3 separate regions of the Homo sapiens genome follow, and regions 2 and 3 are each reported to be linked to region 1. The links are microRNA targets in miRTarBase. Many come from high-throughput screens and were not tested one by one. Region 1 holds a microRNA gene; each other region holds the end of a gene's coding sequence.

Region 1 (4,214 bases):
CTCCAGCTTGGGCAACACATAAGACTCCGCCTCAAAAAAAAAAAAAAAAAAAGCAACTTAATTCAATCAGGGATTAGGAGGGTTTCTGTGGGTTTCTGGACCTCAGTCTTTGTGAGGGCTAGTCTATTTTTGGCCCATCTTACTTGTAGGATTCTTTAGGGTTCCCAACTGGTTTAGTTGTTCATTGCTGTATCTCAAACCACTTCAATATTTGTGGCTTAAAACAATAGTGATTTCTGGCAATTATCTGGGTCGACTGAACAGTTCTTCATTTGGTATTGGCTGGGATCATTCGTAAAGCTGCATTCAGCTGGGCACTTGGCTGGGGCATTTTAGTAAGTTTTCACATGGCATCTCTATACAATATTCCATCCCCGAGGGCCTCTCCACATGGCCTATTTCTCCACTGGGATAACCTTGACTTAAGCATGGAGGCTAGATTCTAACAGGGAGAAATCCAAAAGTACAAGTCCCAGTGAGCAAGTTCATATTTAATCTTTGTTTGTTTCACCTTTACTAATGTACTATTGATAAAAACAAATCACATAAGCCAGATGCAGTGGTGTACACCTGTACTCTCACCTACTCAGGAGGCTGAGACAGGAGGGTTGCTTGAGGCCAGGAGATTGAGGAGGGAGTGTGCTATGATCACACCTGTGAATACTGCACTCCAGCCTGGGCAATGTAGCCAGACCCCCATCTCTCAAGACACAAACAAAAGAAAACAAATTATATGGCTAAGCCCGAAACCAATGTGAAGAGGACCACCCATAGGCATAAATCCTGGAAGGTTTGGTTCACTAGCAGCCAGCTATGTAACATATTACCATATCAAATGAAATCCTATGGTGCTTACCAGAGTACCTCCTCTTTAATGGCTCCTGATCTCCAATTCTTGTCATCTCAGCCCTGTAAGCTCTCTTCAGCTTTTGGGCTTCTCAGTTGCTGATTAGGAATCAGCAAAAACATTAAAGGAAAAGCAATACCAAATGATGGGTTCACCTCTCTGTACTTCCTTTCTCTTTGGGATTGGTCCTTTGAGTTCACGTTTTCTTAGAAACTTTCCAGTGCCTTCAAACTGGTATTTCCTGTATTCTTCCCAGCTTTTCTAGTTGTTCTCAGTAGGAGGGATGGTCTTAAGCAAGCTGATCTGTATTGCTGGCTCACAGTGGCCAGGGGAGTAGAAAGAGCTCAAAGAGAAGTGACTGGTTGGGTCCCAGGACTTCTAGTCTCAGAAAATCCCTCAGTCTCTAGCAGGGCAGGGCAGAGGAGCCCCAGAACCACCTTTCCTCAAAGTACTTTAGCCTATGCAAGCTTAGACTGTTGTCCTTTCACTGTTAACCAGTATTAACCAGTTAACCAGTTCTTCTGCAGACAAAAGCATCAGGAAGTACCCACCATGTACCAGTGGGCCCTTCTTGATGCTCTTGATTGCAGAGGAGCCCTGCAACCTGAATAAATCCTCCTGGAAGGTAAGTGGGGGAGCCCTAATTAAAACTGTAATTCAATGTCTCGATATTTTGGCAAATGAAGGTTCAGGTGAGTTTTAATTAGTTTCAGAAAAAGCAAAGTAAAATGATATTTAATGTACTGGATTTTGATGGATACAAATCTATATCCATTATATACTATATGTTTGTTTTTTCTAAAAAAAAAAAAAAAAAAAAAAAAGGCAACCAGAAAATTGTCATCAATGTTCATACCTTGAATACTCTAATTGAGTATTGACTTTTTTTGGTAACAGCTTTCTTGAGATGTATAATTTACATACCATACAATTTACCCATTTAAAATGTACGATTCTAGTTTTCAATGCATTCACAGATATGTGCAACTATCACTGTTGGCAATTTCAGAACATTTTCATCACCTAAAAGGAAACTCTGTAGCCTTTAGCTATCACTCTCCCATTTCCCTGTTTCCCCCAACGCCCCCAGAGATAAGCAACCACTAATCTACTTTTGGTCTCTATAGATTTGCCTACTCTAGAAAATTCATATAAATGGAATCTTATGTGATCTTTTGAGTCTGCTTCTTTCACTTAGCATACCTTTACAAGATTTATTCATGTTGTAGCATGCATTAGTACATCATTCCATTTTATGGCTGAATAGTATTCCATTATATGGATATTTTGTTTATCTATTCATGATGGACATTTGAGTTGTTTCCAACTTTTGGGTATTATGAATGATGCTATAAACATTTAAGTAAAAGTTTTTGTGTAGATATATGTTTTCATTTCTCTTGGACATAAACCTAGGACTTGGATTGCGGGTCAAATGTTAATTCTATATTTAATTTTTTGAGGAACTGCCAAATTGTTTTCCAATTTTATATTCCCACCAGCTGTGTATGAGGGTTTTGATTTCTACACATCTTCTCTAATACTTAGTAATAAGTATTAAGTATCTGACTTTTTTTTTTTTTGAGATGGAGTTTTGCTCTTGTTGCCCAGGCTGGAGTGCAATGGTGTGATCTTGGCTCACTGTGACCTCTGCCTCCAGGGTTCAAGTGATTCTCCTGCTTTAGCCTCCTGAGTAGCTGGGATTACAGGTGCCTGCCACCACGCCTGGCTAATTTTGTATTTTTAGTAGAGGTGGGGTTTCTCCATATTGTTCAGGCTGGTCTCGAACTCCCAACTTCAGGTCATCCGCCCGCCTCAGCCTCCCAAAATACTAGGATTACAGGTGTGAGCCACTGTGCCCGGTGTTTGTATTTTTTTTTTTTTTTTTTAGTAGAGGCGGGGTTTCACCGTGTTGGTCAGGCTGGTCTCGAACTCCTGACCTCAAGTGATTTACCCTCCTTGGCCTCCCAAAGTGCTGGGATTACAGGCATGAGCCACCACACCCGGTCAAGTCTTGTCCTTCTTCAGGACATTTGTTTCTAAATATTTTACCTTTTGGTGCTATTATAAATGGAATTGTTCTCTTAATTTCACTTTTGAATTGTTCATTGCAAGTGTATAAACATACAATTGAATTTTATGTATTGATTTTGTAACCTGCAACCTTGCTGAATTTGTTTATTATTTATAATAGTTTTTGTGAATTCCTTAGGATTTTTAATACGCAAGATCATGTTGTTATCTTGTATATTAATGATATATAAGATAATATATCTTTCCAATCTGGTTGTCTTTTATTTATTTTTCTTGCCTAATTGCCCTGACTAGAACCTCCAGTAGAGTGTAGAATGGAGGTGGTAAGAGCAGCCATCCATGTCTTGCTACTGATCTTATGGGGAAAATACCCGGTCTTTCACCATTGAGAATGATGTTAGCTGTGGGTTTTTCATGGATGCCTGTATCAAGTTGAGAGAGGTCTCTTTTGTTCTTTTTTTCCTTATTATTATTTTTTTATCATGAAAGGTATTGGATCTTTGTCTCCAAATGCTTTTTCTTCATCTATTGAGATAATCATGTCATTAAAAGAATTCTGTTGATATGATGTGTTGCATTAATTGATTTTCAGATATTAAACCAACCTTGCATTCCTGGAGTAAATCCCACTTGGTCGAGGTGTATAATTCATTATATATGGTACTGGGATTCAGCTTGCTAATGTTTTCTTTTAAAGCATAGTGGCCAGGCACGGTGGCTCACGCCTGTAATCCCAGCACTTTGGTAGGCCGAGGCGGGCGGATTATGAGGTCAGGAGATCAAGACCATCCTGGCTAACATGGTGAAACCCCATCTCTACTAAAAATACAAAAAATTAGCCAGGCATGGTGGCAGGCGCCTGTAGTCCCAGCTACTCAGGAGGCTGAGGTAGGAGAATGGCGTGAACCCGGGAGGCAGAGGTTGCAGTGCGCTGAGACTACGCCACTGCACTCCAGCCTGGGCGGCAGAGTGAGACTCTGTCTTAAAATAAAAAAACAGAAAAACGATAATATTGGGGAAAGAGAGCAATTAGTTTTATTTTTTTAATTTTTTATTATTTACTTCATTTTATCATTTTTTTTTGAGATGGAGTCTCGCTCTGTTGCCAGGCTGGAGTGCAGTGGCATGATCTTTGCTCACTGCAACCTCCGCCTCCTGGGTTCAAGTGATTCTCATGCCTCAGCCTCCCAAGTAGCTGGGATTATAGGCACGTGCCACCCCAACCACCTAATTTTTGTATTTTTAGTAGAGATGAGGTTTTACCATGTTTGCCAGGATGGTCTCGATCTCCTGGCCTCATGATCTGCCCACCTTGGCCTCCCAAAGTGCTGGG
Region 2 (4,214 bases), not on the chromosome of region 1:
TCAACTGGAAAGGCAGTTAAACTATGGAGCAGGTAATGGGACCTATAACCACTAATACTGATGGTATGAGAGCTGGGCTGCTTCTGGCCCCTGACCATTGCTGGGTTGGGTGCCTCTGACCATGAGTCTTGGGTCTTCTGGACTTTGGGGCTAGCCCCTAAGTTCGTCTGCTTTGGAACAGTGCAGAAAAGGATGTCTGGGTCAGACTCGGCAGGGACCCCATGGAACCTCAGCCTCTTGGGGTTCTGCAGCAGCTGGCTAGGTGAACTGCACTCTCTAATTTTTGAATTGGCTCCAGAGAGTCCTAGCCCCTCCCCCAAGAAAAGGGTCACTTATCTGGAATGACACCTCCAAACTTGGCCAGTTCTTTAGGGGTTCCTAGGAGCCCTAGGAAGAGCACCTCAGGAAGCCAGCTGCACTCCCATGAAGCCTCTGCCCCTTTCTAGTTCTCCTGTTCCACTCCCCCACCCAGGTTCACTGGGATCAGGAGGATCATCTCCTTTGGCCTCAGCCCCCTCCCTCCACCTGCCTCTCTAGCTCTGTGTCCCTGGCTGGGTCCTTTTCTCCTCCCGCCAGGCCTCTAGAGCCCACCTCTAATTGTCCTGATGGGAATAATGGGGGAGCGGGGTTGGCTGGAGAGGAAGGGGGAGGGGAGAATTGCTTAGCGCTATGGCCCCCTCCCCCATACCTTATCCGAGTGGGGCAGGGGGACACACCCAGGGCTGAGATCCTTAGCTGGGAAGGGGGGAGAAGGGGGAGACCCTAATGGCTATTCTCTGCAAACACCGGCCTTCCTCCGCAAGACAAACGGCCTCGTCTCCAGCCCGTGCCGGCGCTGCTGATAAATATTTAAAGCTAAAAGGCCGAGAGGAAGGGTGGGGGCGGGCTGGGGGCTCGCAGCGCCGTGGTGCCGGCGAAGAGAGATCCGCCGGGAAGCAGAGCGAGCCTGAGAGCACCGAGCAAATATGGGGGCGGGGATGGCCTGCTGGGTCGCGGCCCAGTGGGTGCAGCCTTCCAGGGCCGACCTCCGGCTGGGAGCACTCTGGACGCGGAAAGGGGCGCCCAGCCGGGAAGGAGGCGCCTTCAGGGTAATGTGCCCCGGCCCCTGGGGCTCAGGACAGCTCGGTGCGCGGCGTTACCTGAGCTTCGCATCCAGGGGTAGATCCGGAAGTTACTCTCGGCCGCCAAGTCCGAGTCCCTCTGCTCCTTGGCGCCCGCCGCCTTGGCGGAGTCGCCGGGACACACCCCGGAGAGGTTCTGCTCAAAGGGCGCGCAGTGCATGTTGAAGGAACTCGGCTCGAGCCCATAGCCGGCCGCGTAGACGCCGGCCGCGCTCTGGCCCGCCATGCCCCCCCCGCCGGGGTACAAGCCCTGCATCGAGGCGGCGAAGGAAGCGCCCGAACCCGCTCCATAGCCCGGGCGCTGGGGGTTGGAAGCAAACGCACAAGAAGTTTGTTCTGGGAAGGCTCCGGTAGCGAAAACCGAACTTGAGGCTGGATATTTAGAAAATAAAGTATTCGCATAATACAATGAACTCATAATTTGGCCGGATGATTTGTAGGCAGGGACGTTTTAGTGTCGGTTTTACGAGATTCCTTGATATATTACAGAATTAGAGTCCAGATTTACACCAAAAAGGACCCCCTTTTTCCTCTCCGGACCACGTGACCCCGCCCACGTGACGTCCCCTCCGCCAATGGCCGGGCCGTCTCCCCACGGCTCCCGGTAATGTGGAAAAAATTGTGTGGCGTTGGATTTATAAAATATGATCAATAATGAATGGGAAAGCCGAGCCCTGTGGATTGGGGCTGGGGGCTCAAGGGCCGCTGCCGACTCCCGCGGGCTGGAGGCCGCTTGCAGGCGAGATTTGGGGAGGAAGAGATTGAGTGGAAGGGAAAATAAATAACCTCGGGGCGATCCGTGTCACCCTCCACCCATCCTCTTCAGCCCGTTACCGAGCGAGAGACAAACGCAGGGATTGAATGCACGCAACTGGGTGGGTGGGTGCTTGGGGCAGGTCTGTTCTTTATTAAACCAGGCCAATTCTGCACGGCAAGGCCTTTTGGGGAAGTTGGTCCGGTTCTCCCAAGACGAGGAATGAGGCGAGCCTGGCTCACGACTCTGTCTCTCTTGGTGCCCCAGATATGCGGGCGGAGATGGAGCAAGTCTTCCTAGGTGCTCCTAGGGCACAGGATCCAGCCCACGGGCCTTGGACGCTGCCGTTTCTGGTGGCAAAAAAAAAAAGAAAGAAAGAAAGAAAAAGAAAAAAAAAGGTTTGAAAGTAAAAGAAAAAGGGGGTTGGGAGGGTGGGGAGAGAAAGGAAGGGTGGAGGTTGGCCCGGGCGCGCTGCTCTCCCGGTTCCCGGAGGCGGATGCCTCAGTGGAGCGTGACTACCAGAGAAGCAGAGGCAGCGAAGGAAGGAAGGCAGAGAGCCATGGCCTCAGAACAGAGCGAAGGTGGCCAAGTCCCTGAGAGGGAGAGGCAGGGAAGAGCGGTCTCCCTTCTCCTCCTGCTCCCCCAACAACAACAGTCCGAGGGAAAAAAAGTATGCTCAGCAGGCCTGCACTCCACCTTTATGCCTGCCCCCCACCCCACCTCCCGACACACATCTTGGGAGGACACACAGCAAAACAAAGAGGGAGGTGGCGGGGGACACAGCCACCAGCCCAGCCGCAGGTCTCCAGCGTGGCCTGGGCGCCCTGGCCTCCCTGGCCGGGCAGCCTCGGAACGCGAGAGGAGGGGGTTTCTCTTGGCTCCCCTCCCTCGTTTTTCTCTCCTCCAATCAGGCTCAGCCGCCTCCCTCACCCCCAGCGCCCCTGGGCCGAGGGACTCGCACCACCTGCCTCCAGCCCCCGCCCCCTCCTCTCTGCAGCCTAGCCTCAGCAGGCGCAGGAGCCCGGTGACAGGCTCCCCACCGGCTCTGCAAGGCACCCGGGAGCAAATGAGGAGCGCTGGCCGGGCCAGTCTCGGGTTCTCGCTTGTAAACTTTATTGTAACTCTTCCGCCCTTTTCAGGCGCAGACAACAGAACAAAGTATAGAGGAACAACAAAATATATAATTAGCCCTCCCTCCCCCCCATAAAGCAATTCACGGATACAGAATACATTCTCTTCACAGTAAACCTAAGAACACTTGTAACAATTGCCCACAGCGCGCATGCTAACTAAAGTAACCTCTTTTGAGAAACACTTAAGACAAAATTGTCAAACCAAAGGGGGTGGGTGGAGGAGGAAAAGAGAGAAGCCAGAGAGAAAGCCAGCGAGCTGGGGGGTTGCAGAGGGGAGAGAGGATTGGGAGGGGAAATGAGGACGCAGCGAGAGAGAGCGAGAGCGAGAGCGAGCGAGCGAGAGAGAGAGAGAGAAGGGAGACAGAAAGAATTACGGCGTGAATAGGCAGTTTCATGTTGTTGGGAGAACTTAGCAGAAATCGGTACCTTGGTCATTACAAAGAAGCACGTTCAAAGGAAAAAAAAGACAATTGCACAAGGAGGCTTTTTACACGGGGAGGGGAGGGGCATGGGGGGCTCAGCCGGGCCTTTGCCGCTCGCCCTCACAGGGCGAGGGAGCCTTTGCTTAAATCCTTTTCTTTCCCCCCGGCCCCCAAGAGAAGGGAAGGAGATCCACGGTAGCTCACACACAGAAGCTATTACGAGATACTACCACTAGCGGGGACTGGCGCGGCGGGGGACGCTGCGGTGGGAGGCCCGGCTCCTGGCCCCGCTAGCGGGGCCAGAGCTCTCTCGGGCAGGGGCGCGCGGCGGCGGCGCGGCCGGGACCCGCGGACGTGCGGGCGGCCGCGGCCCTGGCAGTCCCAGCTGAAGCCTACTTCTTGTCGCCCTTCTGCGCGTCGCCCTCGTCCGCCGCCTCTGGGGCCCGCTCCAGCTTCTGTTTCTCCAGCTCCTCCTGCTCGCATTTGCTGCTGGGGAACTTGTCTTTGTTGTTCTCTTTTTTCCACTTCATCCTCCGGTTCTGGAACCAGATTTTGACCTGTCTCTCTGTCAGTCCCAGGGCGTGCGATACCTCGATTCGCCGCTTACGAGTCAGATAGGGATTAAATAGGAACTCCTTCTCCAGCTCCAGGGTCTGGTAGCGGCTGTAGGTCTGTCGGCCTCGCCTGCGTCCGGCGGCTGCTGGGAATGGGGGAAAGGGCGAGACAGAGGGGAGGGGAGGGTGGGGGAGGGGGCAGGGACGGAGAAGGTTGGAAGATTCGTGAA
Region 3 (4,214 bases), not on the chromosome of region 1:
CAGAAGAGACCAGTAGGTAGAAGTGTCACCAGGACCACCTGCTTGAGAGATTAATAATGTCAGTCATGAGAAATAAAATCTCATGAGGAATGAAATCCCTGGGGATCTTTCCATAAAAATCACCATGACATGGTAGACATGAAAGCTGGGGGGCTTAGAAGCCAATGTGAATCAAAGAGATGGACAAATTACCTGAGGCTGCATTTTACTTATTTTTTATTTAATATTTTAGAGACAAAGTCTCACTCTGTCACCCAGGTTGGGGTACAGTGGTGTGATCATAGCTCACTGCTGCCTTGAACTCCTGGGCTCCAGCAATCCTCCTACCTTAGCCTCCTGAGTAGCTGGGACTACAAGTGTGCACCACCACATCGGGCTAATATTTAAATTTTTTGTAGAAACAGGGTCTTGCTGTGTTGCCCAGGCTGGTCTTGAATTCCTGGCCTCAAGCTATCCTCCTGCCTTGGCCTCCCAAAGAGCTGGAATTACATATGTGAGCCCTGCTCCCGGTCCAACATGGTTCATGAGCCTGGAATGTTGAGGGTGCCTAGCACCAGACATGTTCGTCCCAGAGCTGCTCTGCATGGGACGTCTGGCTTCACAACAGTTTTTGTCTGGTGGCCCAGATTTTCAGTCATATTTTTCTCAAGTGCTGACTCTGGCAGGTTGGAATTAATTTCTTTCAGGCATTCTCAATTCACTCTGCCTCCAAGATTCAGAATTATTTCATCTGATGAACTGTGACCATCTCAGCATGAGGACTCTAAGGAGTGTAAATGTCATTTGTGGTCTGGTTTTTTTCTATCTTGGCATCTGTTATGGACTGCATGTCTGTGTTACCCCAAAATTCATATGGGATGATGTGGGACTTTGGGAGGTAATTAGGGTTAGATGAGGTCAAGAAAGTAGAGCCCTTATGATGGAACTGGTGTCCTTAGAAGAAGAAATATGTCTTTCTCTCTCTCTCTCCACACACACACACCAAGGAAAGACTCTGTGAAGACACAGCAAGAAGTTCTCCACAAGCCAGCAAGAGAGCCCTCACCAGAAAATGAACCAGCTGGCACCTTGATCTTGAACTCCTAGCTTCCAGAATTCTGAGAATTAAATTTCTGTTGTTTAAAGTACTCAATTTGTGGCATTTTGTTATGGTGGCCCTAATGGACTAAGACAGCATCACAATGTAAAACCACACACACACACACACACACACACACACACACACACGGCATGACACACATTTTTACCCAGCAAAACTCCATCTTACACCAAGAATTCTTCTCTGCTTTGGAGCAGCTCAGTGAGTACAAGATGCTGGAAGATGCGCCCTGCAGGGCAGAATGCCCAGGCATGGGGCACAGCCCTGGCCCTGTGTCCTTCTGTTTCCTCAGCCTGGCTTAGGTGTTGGGCTCTTGGTCATGGCTTCATTAGGACTAAATTTTGATGGAAACGGGCATGACACACATGCCAAGAGCACTCCTTGCTCCCCAGGGCATTAAATCACCTTGTTATTTAGTGCCCTCTAGAATCCACTAATTTACATGTGGTCTCTTCTCATAGAAGCATCTCAAGTAAATCTGAATTTGTTTAGACAATTTTATGGGTATTTTAAAACCACAATTGAATTTCAGGCCTTTGTCGCAGTCCAGCCAAGATGCACTCCAATTAGAAATAATTGCTATTAATGCTGTTATGATGTGGAGGATGCCTGCAGTGCTCCTGGACCTTTGTTGTACTGAATCCCCGAAGAGTCTGAGCTTTATTCTTTAACTAAATAGACAGGACCCTAGAAGATACGCTTCTGGAATTGTAATATTACAGCAATATTGTGCTTCTCTCTTAATTAACCTTGTTAACCAAGGATTTGGAACATCAGTGGGTGACTCTGAGAGGGCCTTTGATCCTCTCAGTATACATCTACAGTGGAATAAGATGTCACTGTGAAATAAAACGCCTTTATTCTTTGGCATACACCAAATACCTTCATCATTCTTTGAGTAATGATTGACAGTCTCGTTTAATGAAATAATGTTTGTCAAATACTTAATTTGCTGCCGGGCACAGTAAATGTTAGTTATGATTGTTATAATATTATCATAAAACAAGTTTTTTTTTTTTAAGGTTTTCTGAATGGAAAGGAAATACAGATCAGGGCTGTCATGTTCGTGCAGGCCACTCAAGGTAAACCATAGTGGATTCCAGAGTTTACACCCCCTGAGACTGCTGCCCCTATGACAGCATTTTACCCCCAAGATAGTCAAATTCTCAATTCTTTAGACTTTTACCGGGTCTCCCAAGGTACCGCTCATCCCCTCCTTGCTCCCCACAAGAGGGAAGAGACAAAGGCTGCTGTTTCTCTTGCAAGGCTGCCCCCACCAGCCTGAGAAGGAGTTCCAGGGATATGGTAATTAACATATTTTTCTTAATCTTGCTTTTATAGTTAATCTCCAAAGCATGAAAGCACTTTGCCAGTTGATTAAACTGTAAGAATACAATAGATCCAAAGTGAGGGCAGCACTGATGAATATAAATGCATAAAATTGCCCATTCTGCAGGAAAATGCCTCAACCTGAATCCCAACTTGAAATACTAAGTTGAACACTTAACTTTAATTGCACGAATATATTTTTTGGATCAATAGATAGCAAAAAACCTAACTTGGTATAATTTCATCTTCAAAGTAAGAAGCAACCACTCTTTGATCTCTTCTAGGAAACAAAAGTGATTCTATTTAAGAGTTTGGTCTAGGATCACTGCCTATGAGGGGGCTTCAGGGAATGCCCGGTAAGGCTCTTGGGCACAATAGTGCTGGATGGGCCTTTAGCCAGACTGCCACTCGGTCTGCGTATCCAGGGCATTCAGAAGCATTTGTGTAGCTGTTTTGGAAAGAAGGGCACTGGAGGCGGGCCTTTTCTACATTAGGTGGTACAGGTTCAAAATGGCCAGAGAGGATAGCAAGGGGGTAGAAATCCAGAGCTGTGTGTCCTCTGGAGAGAGGGCATTCTGGCTGGATATCCACATGTCCTCTTCGCCCCTCAGCCCTGCTCCCCAAGGCAGGTCAACCACAGCCGCTGGCTCCATTTGAGCCACCTCCCCAACGACCAAAGCTCAGGGCAGCTCATGGCCATGGCTTATCACTTTCTTACATCTGTGGTAATGGAAATGACAAAAATGGGCTGTCTTTATTTTTGGAAAAAAAAAGAAAAAGAAAAAACCAAAACTCAACCAAATAGGTGATAGCAACATTATTTTCAAACACATTGATTGAAAATTCTAGTCCAGATAACAGAATAGGAGTGGTACTTGTGGTCTCCAGATATATTCCACTGTCAGACAAAAATACTTTTCTTCATTGAAGTACGCATTATGTAACACTGTGTATCAGATGACCTTAGCCATAGAGTTGGTCTTTAGAGCTTCTTCTTTTGGTCAACAAAGCCATCCATTGCATGAAGGATGCCCAAATAGTCAGCTATAAGCAGTCCTGTCTTGAGGGGCAAAAAGCTAAAGAGAACACAAGAATAAACTTTCTTTATTATCATTCATGAAAGCCTCTTTACCACCTCTACTGAAAAGCAGTGTCACCTCTTGTGGCAGATGAAGTCACTCACTCATGCACACACTATGCAGCCTGAGTGCTACCCGCCTCAGGGTCACTGGGCCTTGTTCACTATATCCGGGGACACTCGCCCAGGGCCTTGACAGGTCTTCTGGCTTAAGTTATTCAATTCACTTCTCATTTCGGTTTCCAAAGCATCACTCCACTGTACAATGACACAGAGGAAGCAGTGAAGTCTTGTCCTGTAGGCATGCGCTTTGGGGGCAGATGAGCCTGGCTGGAATCCTAGCTCTGTCATTTGCAGTGCCGCCTTAGGCAATCGACTCAGCTCATAGACCTCAGTTTCCTCAACTGTAAAATGAGGTCATCAGTCTGCCTTTCTGGCGCTACTGTGAGGATGAGATGCAATAGCTCCTCAAACCTTGGGCAAGACCCAACTAACACTGTCCATCTTCTCCATCCACACCTGCCCCTCTGCAAAGCCATATACATGCATGATCATCATCCCAACAGAGCACTCTGCTCCACTGGCCTTTGCATTCAATACTGCAGAGCAAGGAAACAAAGCAGGCACGGGAAACCTGAGACTCATCCTAAGGTGGGGGTAAAGGAAAGGACCCCATGCTCCTTGTTCCCCTGTTTGGGCACCCCAAGA

What was found. The annotated mature microRNA hsa-miR-4422 reads AAAAGCAUCAGGAAGUACCCA and lies in region 1 at 1,377-1,397, shown strand. An mRNA with a match to its seed (bases 2 to 7 or 8) in the 3' UTR can be bound and repressed. Matches are read on the target gene's strand: a 7mer-m8 pairs with bases 2 to 8, a 7mer-A1 pairs with bases 2 to 7 and ends in A, and an 8mer does both.
Region 2: miRTarBase lists HOXB8 as a target of hsa-miR-4422. Seed matches in the 3' UTR shown: 7mer-A1 at 3,080-3,086.
Region 3: the mRNA of SDR16C5 is a reported target of hsa-miR-4422. Seed matches in the 3' UTR shown: 7mer-m8 at 2,450-2,456.

Annotation. Positions count from the first base shown.
Region 1 is chr1:55,224,280-55,228,493 of GRCh38, forward strand. MIR4422 (microRNA 4422) reads left to right here and starts at 1,362; the gene lies at 1,362-1,444. All of the region lies in intron 1 of MIR4422HG (MIR4422 host gene), which reads left to right.
Region 2 is chr17:48,609,380-48,613,593 of GRCh38, forward strand. It overlaps HOXB8 (homeobox B8), which reads right to left. Exons shown (of 2, transcript NM_024016.4): 2 at 2,967-4,130. The coding sequence ends at 3,823. It overlaps HOXB7 (homeobox B7), which reads right to left and starts at 1,638. Exons shown (of 2, transcript NM_004502.4): 1 at 1,140-1,638. The coding sequence starts at 1,539. RefSeq lists enhancers at 510-1,330, 1,331-2,150, 2,151-2,971 and a silencer at 2,765-2,814.
Region 3 is chr8:56,298,070-56,302,283 of GRCh38, forward strand. It overlaps SDR16C5 (short chain dehydrogenase/reductase family 16C member 5), which reads right to left. Exons shown (of 7, transcript NM_138969.4): 7 at 1,936-3,504. The coding sequence ends at 3,411. Among named protein-coding and RNA genes, the nearest start is that of SDR16C5, 20 kb to the right of the region's middle.